Homo sapiens: one gene and its partners. The protein of the gene in region 4 purifies or fractionates together with the protein of the main gene of each other region. This does not show direct contact. Each region holds a gene or a part of one and is shown on either strand. Other genes may lie near its edges.

Region 1 (4,084 bases), on a different chromosome or scaffold from region 4:
ATTCCACATAGGGAGGAACCACGGGACAACCATTTCAAGGTCAACTGCAGGCCAGTGCGCTGACCTTGAGATGGAAAAAGAATGTACATCCTCAAAGAGCAAAGGGGAACCCATCATTCTTCTGCCCATTCTGTCAAAAGACACGTACTGTTTCCTGCATGGGCCAGGCAGCAGGTCAGGTGCCAGAGGAAGCACAAAGACCACTCAGCGTCTGCAAGAAGAAAAGTGAGCTCTGCAGGCTGAAGACTTAGGCAAGGACCCTCAATCTGCCCCTTCCTGACTGAAGGTCTTGGGCCAAGTCCTGCACTCTCTCTAAGTCTCAGGAAAACGAGAACCCTAGCTCTCCTTTACAGGTAACCCTGGCCACTCCACAGTTCAGTCATTAAAAATGAATCTGGGCCGGGCACAGTGGCTCACACCTGTAATCCCAGCACTTTGGGAGGCTAAGGCAGCGAGGATCCCTTGAGCCCAGGAGTTCGGGCAACATGGAGAGACCCCATCTCTACAAAACATTAAAAAATTAGTTGGGCATGGTGGTGCACACCCGTGGTCCCAGCTACTTGGGAGGCTGAGGTAGGAGGATGGCTTGAGCCTGAGAGGTCAAGGTTGCAGTAAGACATGATCACGCTACTTCTGCACTACTTCAACCTCAGCAATGCGTGAGACCCTGTCAAAACACAAACAAAATGAATCTGCACATGCTCAAACTGCAGCACGCTGCTGCACAGAAGGGTCTGCACTGTCTCTTAAAAATAATAGTAGCACTTACGGGGGTCGGGAGTTGGGGGACCCACATAGCTAAGGATCCTAAGAGAGGCACACAGAAGACTTTGGGAGCTGAGAAAGGAGAAGGGGTGGCTGTCAGAGACAGCAAAATTACTTGAAAATCTCCCAAAGTGAAGGGCAGAAACATATATTGGCCTTTATCTGAAAACCATTTCCAAGTCTCCCTGTGCTGGAACCCACTTCAGCCTCCTGCATCACACACTCTGCCCTTCTCCGTGCTGTGAGCCCAGCAAGGATCTAGAGTGCAAATTCCAATGTGCCTCCTCAGGAAGAAAACTCAGGCCAGCTGACCACTTCTGCATGCCGACCAAGGTAGAAAAGTCACCTCTTCCGGGCTTCCCCCACATTACAGGAACCCCAGGCCTGGGAAACCATCCCAGACGTCAGCCCTGGCTCAGTCTTGGCTGTTGGCCTCAGCCAGTCACCTGGCGGTGGCAATCAAAATGACGCCTTCTTTTTATTTTTCCCCCAGTGCAATCTTCCAAGAATGGGAGAGTCTCAAAGTCAGAGTTTAAGCCCTTTTTCACAAGGGAGTCAGTATTTTCACAAGATGGTCTTCCTCAGAGAGGGGAGGAGTCCATCCAACCCAGATAGCAAAATTGCTCCCTGGAGATCCTGGATGGATGTTACAGGGCAAGGAAGCCAAAATGTGGAAGCACACCGACTCACCTCTCAAAATTCACCACCCACTCGTTCATCTCACAATTATCTATGGGGTGCTTCCCACGTGCTTCAACGCACCCTTTCTAGGTGCTGGGGATGCAGAAATTCAAGGTGACTGGCAATGACACTTTCTATCACTGCGCCCCCTGCAGGCCAGGAAATCTACGCTCGTTTTCTCAAGGCCCCACTCGCAGCAGCCCATTTCACAGACGGGACCCTAAGACTCAGAGAGGGTAAGCGACTTGCCCAAGGTCACACAGCTAGTAAGCGGCAGGGCCAGGAATTAAACATAGCTGCAAAGTGCATGTGACACTCCCCCGCAGCCCCAGCTCTATCCCTCCGCACCCCTCCACCTCTTGCAGCAGGGTGGGTAGCAAAGGCACACTCCAAGTAGCTCCAGCATGGTAAGACCTCGATTCCTCCTTCGTTCCACTCCTGACACAGGACACACGTTTCAAAGGACACACAGGTTTTTCCCAACCCCAGTGTGTGTGTACACAGCCCCAGGAAAGCCCTGCAGGCTGCAAGGGCACCCACCCGCTAACACTGAACTTCCATTTAAAAAGAAAGATAATGAAAAGATAAAAGGCGAAGAGGAAGTGCTCTTTAAACACAGGCGGGTGGCTACCCCAGGAGGAAGTCTTGAGGCCAGTGGAGATTTTGTTCACCCCCTCTAGTTCCTCAAATCCAATGCGACTGGTCTTCCAAGCCCCTGATGGGAGGTGGCCGGGGGCCAGCGCTGCTCCCGGGGTCAGTCCCCGCACCGACACCCGGCTCGCAGGAAGGGTCTGCCAGGGACCAGCCACCCCGACCCGAGCGCCCCCTGCCTCGAGGCGCACAAGGCGCCGGCTCCGCAGCTGGGTGGACCCGGGCGGCGGCCCCGCTGCGCGCTCCCCTCGCGTCCGCCCGCCGCCCCCCGCGCACTCGAGGCGCCTCCCCCGGGACCCCCGCGCCCGCCGGCCCGGACGCCCCCACCACGGCGGCGCCCCCTGTCCACCCGCCGCAGCGCCCGGCCCGGCGGCCCGGATGGTACCTCCGCCTCTCCCCGCACCCATCACGCGCGCGCCCCGCACCCCGCGCCCTCTCCGGGGGCAAATCGGATCCAGGGGCGCGCGCGCGGGCCGGCCGGGCGGCGGCGCCTTCAGAGCCCCGGCACGTACCTGGCGGCCCGGGCGGGCGAGGGGAGCGCGGCGCGGGAGCGCAGGAGCCTCGGAGCCTCCGGTGCCGCCGCCGCCGCCGTTTCCGGGTTGGCGGGGCTCACGTCACCGCCACAGGTTTGCGAGCTGCCCCCGCCGCGGCGGCAGCAGCAGCAGCAGCAGCAGCCCGGGCGAGTGCCAGGCGAGAAATAACTATAAAAGGAAGAGGCGCGGCGAGGAGGAAGAGGAAGCGCTGTTTACCTTCGAGAAGCCGAGCCGCCGGCGCTCGCACAAAAGGAGGACGCTCGCCTCGCGACGCGCCTCCCCCCGCGCCCAGTCCCCGCCGCATCGCGGGGCCCCGGCGTCAGCGCGCGCCGCGCCCCGGGACCGCCCCGCGCCGGCCCCCACCCCAGAACCCCGCGCCCGCCTGGCCCGTGTCCTCCCGAGCCGGGGCGCCACGGGCCCGGGACGGTGGTGACCTTGGGCAAGTCACCGCGGGGCGCGCTGCGATTGGGGGTCATCGCCCTCATTGTGCGAGGAGGAAACCCGGCTCCGAGAGGCGCAAGAGTGACCCCCAAGGTCACTGCCTGTCAGGCAGGGCTTGGGCTCGAACCCCGGTCTCCAGACCTTCAGGCCGGCCAGGTTCCCATCCCTGGGTCGCTTCCCCCTCACCTGGACTTCAGGAATGGTGACAGCCCCTGCCTGGCTCACCTCGCAGCGGGGTCAGTGAGAGGAATGCTGTCCACGCACCCATTCAGCCCTCCCGCAGATACTTACTGGGCCTACTAAGTGCCCGGGCTGTTCTAGGCCCTGGAGCTGCAGCTGCGAACCAAAACAAAATCCCTGCCCGGGAGGGGCAGCGGGGACAGGCCGTAAATATCTGATGGGTCCTATGGTGCTAAGTGCTGTGCCAGAGGAAAAATAAAGCGGGGTGAGGGGACGGTGCGGGCTGTCGGTGCTACCCTAAGCGGTTCTCCAAGGACTTTAAATTTAGTACAGAAATTCCCACATAAAAAGCTCCTCGCCATAATTCCAGTTTCAGGTATTATGGGAGACCTCATCTTTCCCCTGATCTAGAATGGAAAATACTGTGTTTTTCTCCCTGTAACAGGACATGCCTAGGAAACTGATACTCTCCTTCCCTCTGCCTTGCTCCCCTGGCCCAGAAGCCCATCCTATCATTATCTTGACATTCAACCAGAAATTTCTCGGGAAGATAGACAACATTCTCTCAAGTATCTTTCTGCTGTCCTCTAGCAGGGTATCAAAAGGGTTACATCAAAGGCTTCCATTGTCTTTCCACCTCCACCTCCAGCTATAGGGGGGTTGGAGTGTGCTCACATCATACTCAGTGCTGAGTTACCTGATTAGGAGCCAGTTGTTCCATTTCTTTTCTTTTTTCTTTCTTTTTTTTTTTTTTGTCTAAGACAGGATTTTGCTCTGTTTCCCAGGCTAGGTAGCGCAGTGATGCGATAGCTCACTGCAGCCTCAAATTCCTG
Region 2 (3,500 bases), on a different chromosome or scaffold from region 4:
GTGTTACCTACCAGGAAAGATAAAACAGTTAGGTGTACTGAGCACCTCCATATGCATATATCACAGGTATCTCAGCAAATTAATTCTGAATTCTAAAATTCACCTACTAAACTCATCTCAAATAGAGACTTGACAACTTTGTCTCAGGTATTGCACAGACATAAACCTGGAGGCCATACACACTTTTTCTGTCACACTTATGCATCACCCAAGAATTTTCAAGTCCACCTCCTTAAAAGTCCTTGAAATCACCATTTTTAGTCTTAGACACTCTGTTCCTTATTCTCTAGCATATTATAGTAACCTCTTAGCTGGTCTCCTCAAATCTGAAGATCCATTCTGCCTCTCTAGTATCTCAATATACTGACAGTCATCACTCTGAAACACAGGACAGATAAACACATCTCACTTTTTTCTTAAAAACTTCAAAACTGGCTTATTATTTCTTTAGTTGCATTCCAAGACCTCTTATGATCAGGCTCTAAGGTACCCTTAACATGGCATAAAACTTACACTCTGGCCTGACAGAACAAGTATCACCAGACCTGAAATGTGTGCTGTCCCCCTCATCTCATTCTCCCCTCTGCTCTAACTATACTGGCCTATGTATGGTATTTTTGAAGGCTGCTGGCTTATCTCCTATTTAGGGAACCCGTATTTGCTGTTCTCTGCCTAAATGTGCTCTCACCTCGGCTCTTATTGCTGGCTCCTTCCTATCATTCAAGTTTCAGCTCAAACTTCACCTCCTTAGACATTATCCATCGGCAAAACCAAAGTTGCTTTTAAACTGTTATCACATCATGTGTCTTCATAACGTTACTGCTATCAAAATTACCTATTTATATATTTCCTCCTCTAGAACTGTGTAAGAGAAAACTGGTTCTGTTTCGGTCACCACTGTATCTCCAGAACAGTAGTGTTCCAAGTACAAATAGTACTTGGCAGAGTGGAAATCCAAAACCTTTGTGAGAACAAATGAAAACACAGAATATATTTTCACCAAGTGTCTGAGGCTGTCAAAAGCATTCATGTTATGGTATAACTCCAATAAGACAAAAGGGAAATAGGACAAGAAAATTGTTCACCTCATCTAACTTATATTTAGAAAGATCTTCATCCTCATCCTCTTCTTCTCCCTCTGATTCTTTATCTTCAACTTCCTTTAATATAGATGCAGGACCAACTGCTTTCCCTCTGTATTTTTTCTTTTTACGTCCAAACTAGAGAAAAACAATTTCAAAATGCTTGTCAGCTGATAATGCATTAAACTTAATACATTTTCTAAAAAATTATTTTAGATATTTATGATTTCCTGAAAATGATCAGTTGCTGAAGACTCAAATTGCACTTAAAAAAAAGTTTGTTTTCCTTTGCATTTAAGAATTTTTTCTGTTTTTCTAATTTATATTCAACCTGAACACCAAAATATAGCTTACCTCATCATATTCACCATCAGATTCTTCTCTTTCTATATATTCAACATTTTCTCTTTCATTAAAACCACCACCATATCCTTAAAAAAGAGGGCACAAATTGTTACCCTATGACAATTGATTTAAATAATAAACACATCATGCCCAAATCTCCAGACAACAAAAAACATCTAATCAACAATGGCTGCCTACCCATCTAATAAATTACTAGTCTTTAGAAAGCATATTAGAAATCACCACAGAAAATACAGAGAACTTAGTTGTAACGTCATATGGCTGTACTTCTAGCTCTTTTCAATTCCAAATTGCCCTACATGACTTATTTAATTCATAGAAAGTATTGGTGGAAAACATCTCAAACTTCTGCTATAACCAAGTTTTAAAGGACTTTCCTCTACAGTTAATCGTAATTCTTCTGGGAAGGGTGGGCTCAGTAACAACCAAGCATTAAATTCCACTGTTTACCAACTGCAAATAGTCTGAAATCTTCTGATATTCTGAAATTTTGCTACTTTAAAATGTAGCAGGCCTTATTAGAGCTTGGAAAATTCCTAATTACACAGACAAACACAATAACACAATAAAGGCCATCCTTTGGCCCTGGTTTAATTGGTTTTAACACATAGGTAAAAGTCACACAGGTTCTCTGAAGTAGCCAGTAAATTTTGAAATTAAATGATTCTATTAAAAAGTAGTTGAGATTAGCAAACCACTATTCTCTCATGTCACAACCAATGTATACAATTCAATTGGCAGGTCTCTGACATAAGCTTAAAGGAGAGACTGGAATTAAAGAAAATGAGCTAGTTTTAGGAAAAGTGAGTTGACATATTTTGAAAAAGTCTCCCATTGAAAATTAAAGAGGTATGTGTTGATCAAGAGTAATACAATCTAACTGGTCACATACTCCAGAGCAGTATCAGTACAATAAGGCCGGTGATTTCCAGACTTAGGGACTTCATTCATCAGCAAAATATTAAATAGATTTATAATAAAAATATTTTATAAAAATTAGGACTTGTAACTTAAAATTTGCCTATCATATTTAAAAAAATATTTTTAAAATTTCACTTTCTGAAAAAAACCCACACTAATATAGCATCTTTTCTTCATTATACTTTGTACTAGTGAAAACTTCAAAATACTTGGAAGTTAATAAAAATATTTTTAAACATACGTGGGATCTAAATTGGAAATAATTTACATAGGAAAAAACTGAAAAGTAATATGACAAATATGGAAAGCTCAAAAATATAGTAAAATTAGAAAGTGAACTATAACTCTAGTAGTTAATTTTTCAAAAGTATGTAAATAAAATTATTTTAAGAGGCAGCAAAATAGTCTGCTGACAACAAAGACATTGGTATGTTCTATGAACCCATACAATATAAATCTAGCTCATTAACTCTGTATAAATGGAAAATACACTAGCTCCCTATCGTGAAAAAACTGAAGCATACCATTTTCACTGAATACCTGAGATAGTGGAATCAATGGAATGATATGTATGTTTCCGTCATTCTACTAATTTCAAGCACTTCAGATAATGCTGTATAAATTGGTTTTATTTCCACTCTTGCCGCCACCTCTCCTAATTACTTCTCCACAAACAGAAAGAAGAGTGTTTAATCCATTACTCAGGTAACTCATCTTTCACTTCTTAGCTTAAGCATAGCTTTCCTAAAGAGGACTTCATTAATCTTTGGTGCTGTAAGACTCTTTTGCTCACCTAGGTATCCCCAGCACCTTGCACAGTGGCCTATAAATGTCTTCAAGGAATGAATACAGAAAACACAATTCTGGAATCATCTAATGAATTTGAATTTCTATGGAAAGCTTTAGAAAGCAACCAAGAATTTCCGTAGATTTTAGTAAGTCTTACAATGAATATATTTTCAAATTTGTCTCACAGTATAATGTAAAAAGCTGAGCAAGGGCCAAGAAAGAATCAAACACAGGTTTAAAATGAATGTTTGGATCAAGATTGTGACAATGGAAAAAAAGCGGGAAAGGGGGATGAATATAACATGTACTTCAAAGGAAGAACTAAGGCACTAACAGGAAAAC
Region 3 (3,500 bases), on a different chromosome or scaffold from region 4:
TTTAATCTTATTTTTTAAAGACAAGATCTCACTCTATTTCCCAGGCTGGAGTGCAGTGGTGTGATCATGGCTCACTGTAGCCTCCCAGGCCCAATCCATCCTACCCCCTCAGCCTCCTGAGTAGCTGGGAACACAGGCGTGTGCCATAATGCCTGGCTAATTTTTTATAGAGATGGGGGTCTTCCTATGTTGCCCAGTCTTGTCTTGAACTCCTGGGCTCAAGTGATCCTCCTGCCTTGGCCTCCCAAACTGTTGGGATTATAGGTGTGAGCCAGAGCACCCAGCCAATACTTCATAGGGTTGTAGTTTGTTTTTCGACAAGGTCTCATTCTGTTACCCAGGCTGGAGTACAGTAGCCTGATCATAGCTTACTGCAGCCTTGAACTCCTGGGCTCAAGTGATTCTCCCACCTCAGCCTCTCAAGTAGCTAGGACCACAGGTACATTACCACCACTGGCTAATTAAAAAAAAAAATTCTGTAGAGAGGAGATCTGGCTATTTTGTTTGTTTGTTCGTTTTTTGAGGCAGCTGAAGAGGAAGAGGTCTACAGTGACACAATCATAGTTCACTGCAGGTCAAACTCCCTGGGCTCAAGCGATCCTCTCGCCTTGGCCTCCTAAAATGCTGGGATTATAAGTGTGAGCCACCATGCCTGGCCGAGTTATTGTAGACATTAGTTATTGCTATTTATAAAAGCTCCTGGAACAATAGAGCCATAGCACATCAGCTATTTCCTTTAAGTACTGTGGCCCCTTTTTTTTCTCTTTTTGGAGATGGAGTCTCACTCTGTTGTCCAGGCTGAAGTGCAGTGGTGTGATCTCGGCTCACTGCAACTTCCGCCTCCTGGGTTCAAGTGATTCTTCTGCCTCAGCCTCCCAGCTAGCTGGGATTACAGGTGCCCATCAACAAGACCAGCTATCTTTCTTTTGGACTACTTTGTGCAGCTACTCTTCCATCCTTCCTACATGCCTATGATTGCATAAGGGAAGCAGGGTTCCCGACCACTTGCACTTGATAGAAGCCCCAGGCCTGTCCCCCTTTGAACACTAAGTATAAACTGGGTTGTGTTTATGGCAAATGAAGGATGGAATAGATGGATTAGACCACTTATAAATCACTAAATAAAAATAACTCTCGTTTTTGGGCCTCTTCTCACTATCATATCATATGGCCTTGTGGAAGAGTGAGATACAGGAGAAAGGGACCCAGGCTACTTTTAGCGTAGGCCTTACAAAAAGAATCTTCCTGACTCCTTCATGAGCCATTGCAGTCTATAGAGACCTCATACAGATCTATCTAGGGTCCTGTGATAATGAATGGTTTACATTTTCCTACAGTGCATGGTGGTAATTAATGGTGTGTGTTGCCTCTGAATAGCTCCTTTAGGAACGTTAAATGGTGGCAGACAGCTGACTGAGGACTTACAAATTCAGGATTTCCTCTGGCTCTATTTCAGCTTAATAATGAAAAAGAGGCAAATAACCAAAGGAAGCTGTTACGGACCTTCTGCAAGGAAAGAAGTTCCAGGGCCACTATTAGGGTCAGTACCCATTTAGCCCTATGTTTCATACCATCTATAGCCTCAGTTTTAGCACAATACCTAGTTTTCAAGAAAACCTTGACCATATTCCATTTTTAAGAAGCAGGACATTTAAATTATACCCTTGTCTTTTAGATAAAACTCTACTAACACAAAGAAAAAAGCTGGAAATGGAGTTAGCCAAGGTTTTACAGTATGATTTATAGAGAAAATTATATTGGATAATTAAAACAAAAACCAGAGTTATACAACTTGCTTAAAGAGCTTTTGACTTTTTGTACATAATTATAACAGATACTATAAAAAACTTTTATAAAGGCAATTTAGGCCAGGCACGGTGGCTCACGCCTGTAATCCTAGCACTTTGGGAGGCTGAGGTGGACAGATCACCTGAGGTTGGGAGTTTGACACCAGCTTGACCAATGGAGAAACCCTGTCTCTACTAAAAATACAAAATTAGCTGGGCGTGGTGGCGCACACCTGTAATCCCAGCTACTCGGGAGGCTGAGGCAGGAGAATTGCTTGAACCTGGGAGGTGGAGGTGGAGGTTGCGGTGAGCTGAGATTGCGCCACTGCACTCCAGCCTGGGCAACAAGAGCAAAACTCCATCTCTCAAAACAAAACAAAACAAAACAAAACAAAACAAAACAAAAAAGCAATTAAAAAATCTATTGAAGTTTCCATAAGAAACAAAATTTTCACAATGGAAATTCCAGCTGATTAAATTTCTATGTAATTAAATAAGCATGAGTGACAGGTTTTGTGTCTTGTTTAGTAATTTAACAACTTTTTAACTTTCTGAAAGTAGAATCACCTCAATTCTTACCTGAAAAATTTCTATAAGAGTTTAGAAAAGAGCTATGCAAACTGACACTCAAGCCATATGGGTTTGGGCAACTTATCTCCAGTGTTTATTGTCAAGATGACATAGGATATATCAGGCCTTTTTTTTTTTGCAGGGTCTCACTTTGTCACCCAGGCTGAGTGCTGTGGTGCAATCAAAGCTCACTGAAACCTCAAATTCCGGGGCTCAAGCAATCCTCCAACCTCAACCCCCCAAGTAGCTGGGACTACAGGCATGCGCCACCATGCCTGGCTAATTTTTTGTATTTTTTGTAGAGACAGGGTTTTACCATGTTGCCCAGGCTGGTCTTGAACTCCTGAGCTCAAGATCCGCCCAACTCGGCCTCCCAAAGTGCTGGGATTACAGGTGGGAGCCACCACACCTGGCCTATCAGGCCTTTATTTAGCAGAGAGAAGATATTAAAGCAACACACTTTTAAGTTTCTTATGTATTATTTCTCTTTTCTTTCCACATAGGAAATGGTCTGAAGACAATGATATAGTGTGATTCCTTGAAATCCTTCTTGGGCAGTGGAAGGGTTCAGATTTTTTCCCTCCAACTTAATCAGATGAAGAGTGAGAGTAAGCAGTATTTAAGAGTACACAGACAGGCACACATATGCACTTGTATTTTAACCACCAGGGCCGTGTCAGTACGGAAAGCATTTAATAAAGATTTGATAGACCGACTTTTAGATGCTGAATTACGTGTTTTAGTGGTAAAGATCTCAATGGCTTTGTCAAAATTCTAGTGAGCTTTTAAGTATTTTAAGATGCCAAATACTTGCTTTTTATCTGGAAAATGTTTACAAATGTCTTATGGGGATATATTTTTATTTCAAAATTTACTATGAATAAATATTTTGCAATAAACAGCAACCAAAGTACATTTGCTTCAATTTTTGCAGCAAAAGATTTCACAAGAGCAACTAAGAGGCAACTATTTAAATAATAATTATAGAATCTGCCCATAAAAAACACATATAATACATACATTTTAGAGAGACAGGGTCTTGCTCTGTCTCTCAGGCTGGAGCACAGTGGTATAATCATGGGTTACTGCAGCTTTGACTTCCCAGACTCAAGCTATCTTCTCACCTCAGCCTCCCAAGTACCT
Region 4 (3,500 bases):
TGTTCAGGTTGTGGCCCAAAACACTAAAAGATCAAGTATGTTGCTAAACACACAGAAACCAGCCCCAACCCTGAGCCAAATTCCTTAAACCCTCCTATAAACTGCAGCCCTCCTGTGTAAGTTCCCCTAATAAATCCTTTAGACTGATCACCCTGGCATTTAGTGCCTCTTTTTTTGGACTCTCATCTGGCCCTATCTGGAACAGTTTGGGGCAGTCCCTTGTGGAAACTCCCCCGCCACCACTTTTGAGGCAACTCCAGCTGTGGGTTCAGCCAGTAAGAATAGCAGTATAGTATTAAAATCCTGTGATGGCCAGGAAGCAGCCTTATTGATAAAGATAAAAACTCAACGGTGCCATAGACTTTTTGCAGTGTTTCTGAAAGGTTTTCCATTAGGAAAATACCTTGTGCCTACAAAAACAGTATGTAAAATAGACTGATATTATTTAATTAGATATAGAAATACCTGTTTTCTTATCAGATGAAAGTATGATGGAAAAGAACAGGTTAAAAACACTCTAATATGGCTTGAAAAAACTAACTCAAAGTTACATGAATCCGCAGTCTCTTCAACAAAACATAATATTTATTTATATACTGGATAGACACAGCCTAGAAAGGATTTCTTAAAAAGCACAGAATAGTCCTCTGTGAAGATTTAAACAATAAAATATGTGAAGAAAGAAGACTGCCTTAATTAATTTCTGGAAATAATGCTCCTTACCTTATTTAATACGTTGCTTACTTCACTAGCAAAATCTCTTGAACATACTTCTAAATGAAAAATTTTGCCACAGTTTGATACACATGCTCCTAGAAGCTAAAAGCACAAAATCAGAAGTTAAAGGGGCTCAATTGTGGCAGGTAATTTCGTGGTACAGATTAAAATGAAACCACTCACAGTCAAAGCCTGCATAGCAACGTGAGGATCTTTGTGGTTCACTCTTCTCATAATAGACCGAAGACAATCCTTAGGTCTAAAAAAATGAGAAAAGTAAAAATTACTTAATAATACATCTAGCTTCCCCCTGCCCCTTAACTGTTATAGACAAAAGACTACGATAAAAAGGGAGACTATGATAAAGTAGGGAAATTTAATTTTTATTAATAACACGGTTGAAAAACTGTAAACTAGTTCCTTTAAATTTTTCAAACAAAATTAACAGGCTCTCTTATTAGTAATCGTAGATGAGGCATTTCAGGCTAATTCTGGGTAGGAAAAAAAAAAAGGTTTGAAAATAAAATGGTAGGCCATGACTTCCACTTCCAGCCAGGGTGGAAAAACAGACCAGACTTACACTCCCGTTGTAAACAATTAGAAAACTGGAAAAACAGATTTTCCACACTGAGGTTAACTTTTTAAAGACATGAGGCCACAGGCAGTACTGAATGATAATATCCAAGAAGGAAAATGAATTAGATAAGCCAGAAGTTTGCCTCAACTTTCTGCCTAGAGGCACTTTCCAAGTATCAGTGAAGACCTTCTGAAAAACCCACGCATGCACAGGTGAAAAACTCCATGAAACTGGTCAAAAAGTGACCGAGGGCGATATGCTAAAGAGATCCAACGCTCACACAGTCGTCAGAGATGAGGCCACAGTGAAGCATCTATTGAAAATCCAGAGGATTCAGTGGATATACAGGGGAGTTTAGACCCTAGCAATGCAGCTCAATCATACCTACATACTGCCTAACAACATAAGCCACAGACGAATGTAACCACTTCTGAAAAAATAAAGTCCAATACTCCTTAACAGGAATACAACACCTGATGCTCAAAAATATAAAATTCAAAGTACTAAGCATTCAATAAAATGATATGAAGACATGATATGAAGAAGAAAACTACCATACACAACTAGCAGAAAATTCAGTCAACTGAGAATGCAGAAATAACAAAGATGATGAAATTAGCAGTCAAGGACTTTATATAAGCTATTATAAGCATGCTGGAAATCATCCACATAATGATGAAGAAATATATTAAAAAGGGCCCAGATAAAAGTCTAGAGACAAAAAAATATGTAAAATTAAAAAGTGGATGGAATTAATCAGGTAAGAATGAAAGATCAGTAAATTTGAAAATATGCTGAAAGTACCCAAACTGAAGTACAGAGAGAAAAAAAATGAAAAAATTTAACACAGAGCCACCACTACAAATATTTTTAAGAGAAAAATGAAAATAAAATAGCTTGGGTGCAGCAGCTCACACCTATAATTCCAGCATTTTGGGAGGCCGAGGTGGGCAGATGGCTTGAGTCCGGAAGTTTGGGACCAGCCTGGGCAACACTGTGAAACCCTATCTCTACAAAAAATAATACAAAAATTAGCCAGAAATGGTCCCAGCTCCTATGGGCGCAGTGAATGGCCTGAGGTGGGAGGTTCACTTGAGCCCCAGAGGTCGAGGATGCAGTGAGCTGTGATGGCACCACCGTACTCCATCCTGAGAGACAGAGTGAGACCCTGTCTCAAAACAAAGTTTTAAATCAAAAAAATAAAACCATAAAAACCATTTGATTGATACACAAAAGACAGAAAGAGAAAACAGAAGAAACATAACCAATCATCTAGAAAAATGGCAGATTAAGATTGTAATCCAACTACACTTTTATCTATTCACTACCGTTAGCAGTTTTCATAACAAGGAATACTAACAGGGATAAAGAGAGACAGTACATAATAATAAAACGGTTAAGTCCCCCAAGGAAACATAATTCTAAATGTGCATGAACACAAAAATAGAACTTCAAAATATATAAAGGAAACATCGATACAGCCGAAAGGAAACACAGACAAATCTACTGGAAACTTCAACATGCCCCCTCAATGACTTGATAACACAAGAAAAAAAAGTACTGATATGGAATACCTGAATGACACTATCATGAAACTTGACCTGACTGGCATTACACAACAATCCACCCACCCATGGCATTATACACATTTTTTTTCATGTGCATGGAAAATTCAACAAAATGGACTACATTCTGTCCTATAAAACAAACACTGATAAATTTAAAAGGACTAAAGTCATACAAAGTACATTCTTTGACCATAACAAAATTAAACTACAAATTGATAACAAAATGATAGCATAAAAATACCCAAATATTTGGAAATCAAATAACAAATATCTAAGGCTTACAACAAATGAAATCACAGAACCATAATTTCCCTTAAGGACATGAAAATGAAAGCATACTACCCAGTACTCTTTATAAGAATGTTCACAGAGGCTCTGTTCAGAGTCAAAACCTGGATACAATCCAAATGCCCATCAACAGATGAATGGATAAATTGTAATATATTAACACAATGTAATACCTCTTCCCCAAGAAACAGGAATATTGATACATACAAAAATTTGAATTCATCTTAGAAACACATTTAGTGCTAGACACAGGAGTACTGACAATACTATTTCATTTTATGAAATTCTAGAAAAGGAAATTTAATCTATAGTGACAATGCATATTAGTACTTGCATAAGGTGGAAGGAAC

What was found.
Region 1: the proteins of STAM (region 4) and CYRIB purify together in Homo sapiens (affinity purification with mass spectrometry; one large-scale study listed by BioGRID and IntAct). This does not show direct contact.
Region 2: the proteins of STAM (region 4) and ZRANB2 fractionate together in Homo sapiens (co-fractionation; one large-scale study listed by BioGRID). This does not show direct contact.
Region 3: the proteins of STAM (region 4) and IKBIP purify together in Homo sapiens (affinity purification with mass spectrometry; one large-scale study listed by BioGRID and IntAct). This does not show direct contact.

The regions. Positions count from the first base shown.
Region 1 is NC_000008.11:130,013,761-130,017,844, forward strand, and holds the start of CYRIB (CYFIP-related Rac1 interactor B), read right to left. Parts: upstream 2,801-4,084; 5' UTR 2,610-2,800; intron 1-2,609. UniProt on the Homo sapiens protein: Negatively regulates RAC1 signaling and RAC1-driven cytoskeletal remodeling. Regulates chemotaxis, cell migration and epithelial polarization by controlling the polarity, plasticity, duration and extent of protrusions.
Region 2 is NC_000001.11:71,071,036-71,074,535, forward strand, and holds part of ZRANB2 (zinc finger Ran-binding domain-containing protein 2), read right to left. Parts: intron 1,514-3,500; coding exon 1,437-1,513; intron 1,221-1,436; coding exon 1,086-1,220; intron 1-1,085. UniProt on the Homo sapiens protein: Splice factor required for alternative splicing of TRA2B/SFRS10 transcripts. Binds to ssRNA containing the consensus sequence 5'-AGGUAA-3'. May interfere with constitutive 5'-splice site selection.
Region 3 is NC_000012.12:98,638,289-98,641,788, forward strand, and holds part of IKBIP (inhibitor of nuclear factor kappa-B kinase-interacting protein), read right to left. Parts: intron 1-3,500. UniProt on the Homo sapiens protein: Target of p53/TP53 with pro-apoptotic function.
Region 4 is NC_000010.11:17,682,151-17,685,650, reverse strand, and holds part of STAM (signal transducing adapter molecule 1), read right to left. Parts: intron 977-3,500; coding exon 901-976; intron 820-900; coding exon 724-819; intron 1-723. UniProt on the Homo sapiens protein: Involved in intracellular signal transduction mediated by cytokines and growth factors. Upon IL-2 and GM-CSL stimulation, it plays a role in signaling leading to DNA synthesis and MYC induction. May also play a role in T-cell development.